Linked DNA regions of Homo sapiens: region 2 is linked to region 1. Evidence: fine-mapped expression QTL. A gene starts in region 1. The other region holds a variant in brackets. All regions are shown on one strand. Distances are between the middles of the regions.

The links.
Region 2: its variant is fine-mapped to the expression of VHRT in testis (GTEx, PIP 0.95).

What each region holds. Positions count from the first base shown.
Region 1 is chr12:110,934,941-110,937,854 of GRCh38, reverse strand. VHRT (ventricular heart development associated lncRNA) reads right to left here and starts at 1,253. Exons shown (of 2, transcript NR_036513.1): 1 at 1,157-1,253; 2 at 407-670. RefSeq lists a silencer at 396-690 and enhancers at 603-1,296, 1,297-1,990.
Region 2 is chr12:110,962,045-110,964,958 of GRCh38, reverse strand. No RefSeq gene overlaps it. Among named protein-coding and RNA genes, the nearest start is that of LINC01404, 5.7 kb to the right of the region's middle. The variant C/T (reference allele first, on the strand shown) is at 1,521.

The DNA.
Region 1 (2,914 bases):
AGGTTGCAGTGAGCCGAGATCGCACCACTGCACTCCAGCCTGGTGACAGACTGAAACTCCGTCTCAAAAAAAAAAAAAAAAAAAAAAAAATCGTGTTTATCTCTCTCTTTCTTCCTTTTTGTCTCTGTCTCTCTTCCCTCTTACCTTGTTCTATTTTCCTATTTTACTCCATAGAAGGTATCAACTTCTAACCTCCTAGGTCGTTTGCTTATTTATTACGTTTGTCATCTAAGACCTCCTGCCCACCGGCCCCCAGCAGGAAGGACTGCTCCAGGAAGGCAGGAATTGGAATTTGTGTCTGTTTTGTTCCCTGTTGACTCCCAGGGCTTAGAACAAGGCTTGGCACACAGTAGGAGCTCAGTAAATATTTGAGTAGTGAATGAATGAAATCTAAACAAGCAAATGGTTTTCCTTTATGAAGACTTTATTTCATCCTCACTCTTCTGATTTTCAGAAGCAGCAGCACGGATGAGACGGGTCTGGCAGGCTTGGCGGGGGACAGGTGGGAGGAAAGATGTTCCTCGCCCTCTCCAGATTCCGCGCCCTTGGTTCGCCAGCGGGAAGCCGTGGCTGCGCGGAGCCGAGGTAGCACCGCCCCCTGCTGGGCAGTTTGGAGAAATGCAGCGCGGACGCTCAGCGATTGGGCCAGATACATTTCAAACAAGTACACCTGGGAATTTGGAAAGGAACAGGATGGAAAGGTCATCGGGGGTGAGGCAGCCAGATGGATCTGCGGGAGGCCTTTTCAGAAAGGAAGAGGAGCCGAGAAAAAAAATGCAGCCCATTCTCTCAGCTGCAGGACCCGGATTCAAGCAGAGTCCGCGTCTCGCAATGAATGGGTTTCTCCTGTTGAGGCCAAGGCTGACCGTGATGGAAGCCAGGTGCAATTCAAGGCCAACTCCCAGGGATCTCTTTTTGGAATTTCTGGTTTCCCTAGGTTTCCTCGCAGGTTTTGTGGTGAGCATGTATCCTTTTATCAAACCCACCCCACAAAACCAGAATTTCAAAACAAGTTTTTACCCAGCCTTTTTAACAAATGTGCACATGCAGTTTCAGAAAGAGGAAATGTATTAGTGTATTAGTCCATTCTCACACTGCTATAAAGAACTACCTGAGACTGGGTAATTTATGAAGAAAAGAGGTTTTATGGACTCACCGTTCTGCAGGCTTAACCAGCAGTATGACTGGGAGACCTCAGGAAACTTACACTCATGGCGGAAGGCAAAGGGGAAACAAGCACCTTCTTCACATGGTGGCAGGAGAGACAGAGAGAGAAGTGAGGAGAGCTCTATCACGAGAATAGCAAGGGGGAGGGGGAGCTCCGCCCCCATGATACAATCACCTCCCACCAGGCCCTTCCCCCGACAAGTGGGGAATACAATTGGAGATGAAATTTGGGTGGGGACACAGCCAAACCCTATCAATTAGCCAAGTCAAGATTGTTCATTGACTCGACATTTTTACTGTGAATTTACTGTGTGCCAGCCACGGTTCTTGGTGCTGGGGCTACAGCAGCAAAACAGACAGACAAAAACCTCAGCCTTTATGGAGCCGATATTACAGTAAAAGAGACAAGTCCCTAACGCACAAATAAATGAAAATACCTGACTAAAAACTAAGGTAAGTGCCCTGAAAGAGAAAAACAAGGTGTTACCAAAAAAATTTTAAAAAGAGCAGACTTCAATTTTGGGAATCCACACCGAAGACATGAGATTTAATCTGAATTCCTCTCCCAGGAGCCAGGGGCAATCTACGGGGAGAAAGGAATAGCAAGAGAGAAGCTGGAAGTTTCCAGGCTTTCAGTCTTAATTCAGTATCCCCCAGAGAAGAATAACTTGTCCCTTTTAGTAGATGTTTGCTCTGTAGTAAAAGGACAGCATAGGAGTCTAGAATCAGAGTCCTGGGTTCAATTCCTGGCTCTGCCCCCTTCCTTAGTTTCTATTTCCTCTGTCCCTTAGAGTTATTATAAGGATTTAATGAGATAATAGAGATGTAGCTATGGACACAGCAGCTGGCAAATAGTCAATAAGTAGTCATCATTGTTTAAAGGCTCTGAGAAGATCTGCAACTGGGGAACCTGTTGAACTAGACTCTCTTGTTGGCTACAGAAAATTTTTTTTTTTTTTTTAGACAGAGACTCACTCTGTCGCGCAGGCTGGAGTGCAATGGCATCATCTCAGTTCACTGCAACCTCCGCCTCTCAGGTTCAAGAGCTTCTTCTGCCTCAGCCTCCCAAGTAGCTGGGATGACAGGCATGCGCCACCACACCCAGCTAATTTTTGTATTTTTAGTAGAGACAGAGTTTCACCATGTTGGGCAGGCTGGTTTCGAACTCCTGACCTCAAATGATTCGCCCACTTCTGCCTCCCAAAGTGCTGGGATTACAGGCGTGAGCCACCACGCCCAGCCTATAGAACCATTTTGTTGCAGGATATTGTGTGCTGTACCATATATATTGGGGAAATATTACTTCAGTTACTGGGGGTGTGGGTGGAGCAGACATTATTCATTGCCTACCCCAAGTCCATTTGCTGTCTTTTTTCTTGCTAATAGAACTCTGGTTATGTTCAGGATTAGGCCAAAGAACCTTGGATGTCAAAGCAGGTAGGTCAGACTTGGTCTAGATGTGGGCGCCTTACCTTGTTCTGGCCAGTGAGATGTATGAAAAGTCTCCTAGGGGCTTCCCCATGAAGATATTGTCCTCCATAAGAAGTAAAGAAACATTTGCACCTGACCCCACCCCCACTGCCACCACCCCCGCCCCAGCTTCTGCTTTGAACGTAGTGTCGTGAGGACAGGACACTTGGCTCTGCTGCCACCATCTTGGGACCACAAGAGGGAACCCCCACAGAGTCACAGAGACAACTCTGGGGTCCCCAATCATGTCCAGCTACTGAACAACCGTGGAACTGTC
Region 2 (2,914 bases), 27 kb before region 1:
GGGAATGTCTGTTGTTTGGCCTTCCTGATATCTCTTTTTCCTGCTCAGATACCAGCACCCTAATTTGCCTTTGGGACACCAACCACCTTCCACTCGGGGTCCGCTTTGGGCTGATTGTCTCCTCACCTTGACCCAAGCCCAGCTAGAGGACAGAGAAAGAGAGAGTAGAGGAGAGAATCCGATTGGCCCAGCCGGAGCCAGGAGCCTAGCTTGGTCCAATCAGCTCCCGCCAGAGATTAGTACAGATAGTGGTTAGTGAATGGGCAGAGAACAAAGCTGGGTCATGTGATGTGAGATTGAACCTCTGTGACTCTCTCACACCATCAGGAAGCTTTCACGGTAATCTCTGCCTCTTTTATCTGTGGATAAATGGAGAAGGGGGTACAGCAAGTTTTCATCATCCTGGGGAATCAATGCATACCACCACTGGGAAGACAGAAGACCCTTGCATGCACCTTGGGAACCAAGACTGGGCCTCAGAGACCCCAAGCCTTGTGGTTGAGGCTCATTGGTGTTCATTCCAGACAGACCTGGATTTGAACCTCGATCCCACCACTTTCCAAACCTCTTTCCTTGGACAAGTCCCTTCACCCCTCTGAACCTTAGTTCCCACATCTGTAGAATGGAGATGGCAATGAAACCCACCTTGTGGGAATGGGGTGAAAAGCAGCATCATTCCAGGTATATGCAGCATTGGTGGGTACTAGGGGGACAGAGAGCAAAAGTTTTTATTTTAATAGTTATGCATTTATTTTAAGGTTACTGTCTACTTTTGAAAAATATTACTGTCTACTGTTTTTTTCACTGATGGCAGTGCTCTAAAGTTCCTTTTCAAAATAAATTTATTGAAACAAAAAAGGAGCCAATTTAAAGAAAAATATTAAGTCAAAAGTAGTACAGATGAAACTTGGAAAACCTGGGAAGCAGAATTCAAATGACTGAAGTTTGAGAAACACTGAAATAATGCCCAATGCCTGGTACATAGTAGTTGCTCATTAAAAGTGTATAGATCAAGATGGATTGGTATTTTACACTGGCTGCAGGCAGCCTGGCCATGGCTAGATGGAAACGCATGAGTAGGGGCCAGGCGTGATGGCTCATGCCTGTAATCCCAGCACTTTGGGAGGACAAAACGGGTGAATCACTTGAGGTCAGGAGTTCAAGACCAGCCTGGCCAACATGGCAAAACCCCACCTCTACTAAAAATACAAAAATTAGCCGGGGGTGGTGCGTGCCTGTAATCCCAGTTACACTGGAGGCTGAGGCAGGAGAATCACTTGAACCCGAGAGGCAGAGGTTGAGGTTGCAAGTGAGCAGAGATCATGCCTTTGCACTCCAGCCTGGGTGACAGAGCCTGACTCAATCTCAAAAATAAAATAAAATAAAATAAAATAAAAATTTTTTAAAAAAGAAATGCATGAGTGGGAAGATGCCAGAGTCATGTGACCTTGTGGAGTAGATGCTCTGATGCCTGATAAACCTCAGCCAAGAAACAGCCCTTGGGGAAGCAGGAGAATTTA[C/T]ACACAGGAACAGGGGTGCGGCCAGTGCTCACGACAGAGGGAGACTAATAAGAGGGGATTCAAGTGGTTCTTATGGGAAAACATGAATCTCAGAGGAAATGATTCAAGAGAAGTCAGCCCCAGGGCAAGCCCTGGTGCTTGGAGTTGTGACTTCTGATCCCCATTTTGGATCTAGAAAACTTCCCACCTGAAATGCCTTGTCCCTCTTGACAGCTGTCATCATATCCGGCACACAGGAGGAAGAGGGAGCCCAGGGCAGGATCCTGCAAGATGAGCCCTTTAAGCTGCCATAGGAAGCCACAGGGACTGGCCATAACCAGTCCATTTTCCATCTGGAACTTGGAAATATGGTCTTTCCTAGAGAAGAATGTCAAAGCCTCAGATGGCATCTAGGGGGCTAGACAGGGAGATAAATGAATAAAGTTGGCAGGTTGAAACAATAATCCTGAGGATGGTGTTTCACTGGGCATGTGCCACACCCAAGGTGACAAATTTAGTAAGTTGCTATGCAGGTCACATAAGATCCTGCATGTAAGTGCCTGGCACAGTGCCTGGCATCCAGACGATATGCAAGAAATGGTAGCTATTATGATAATTGTTGTCCATCAGCCTAAGGGAGAGTCCTAAACCAAAGACTGAAAAGCCCTGGAAAGTCCAATATCCTGTTATTTTCTGACTGTAATACACAAAGAAATGTGCTAAGAGGAGCTAGGTGTTGGAAGGAAAGAACTGTTCAGTGGTTAGAGGAATGCCCAATTTCTATTCTTTCTCTGATGAATTCTACAGCCTTCTCCAGCAGTAAAATTGAGATTTTTTTTTAAAAGATAGATTTAAAACTACTTTAGTGTTTTAAAACCCTGCTACCATCTGAATGAGGGAGTATTACGACAATGGAGTATTAGGACAATGCAGTAGCACTTGAAGCCAAAAAATAAATTAAACTGATAAATTACTCAGTGTTCTTGAATGTATTGAGAGATTTATAAGAATAGCAGAGAGCCTGGGGTGAGTTATTGATAAGAACACAGAAGACAAAAAAAAAGAGGCAATGGCTAACTCTAGGAAAAACAAAATGTTATAGTCATAGCACACGAAGTGGCCCAGTTGTGAATAATATAAACAATCATCAGGCTGGGCATGGTGGCTCCATGCCGGTAATCCCTGAACCTTGGGAGGCTGTGGTGGGAGGATTGCTTGAGCCTGGGAGGTCAAGCCTGCAGTGAGCCATGATTCTGCCGCTGCACTGTAGCCTAGGTGACAAAGTGAGACCCTGTCTCTCAAAACAACAAGAAAACAACAACAACAAAACCCAATCATCATAATATAACCATCAAATATTAATTCAATATTTGAATAGACTTTTTAAAGAACTGTCTTAGGTTTAAAGGAAAATT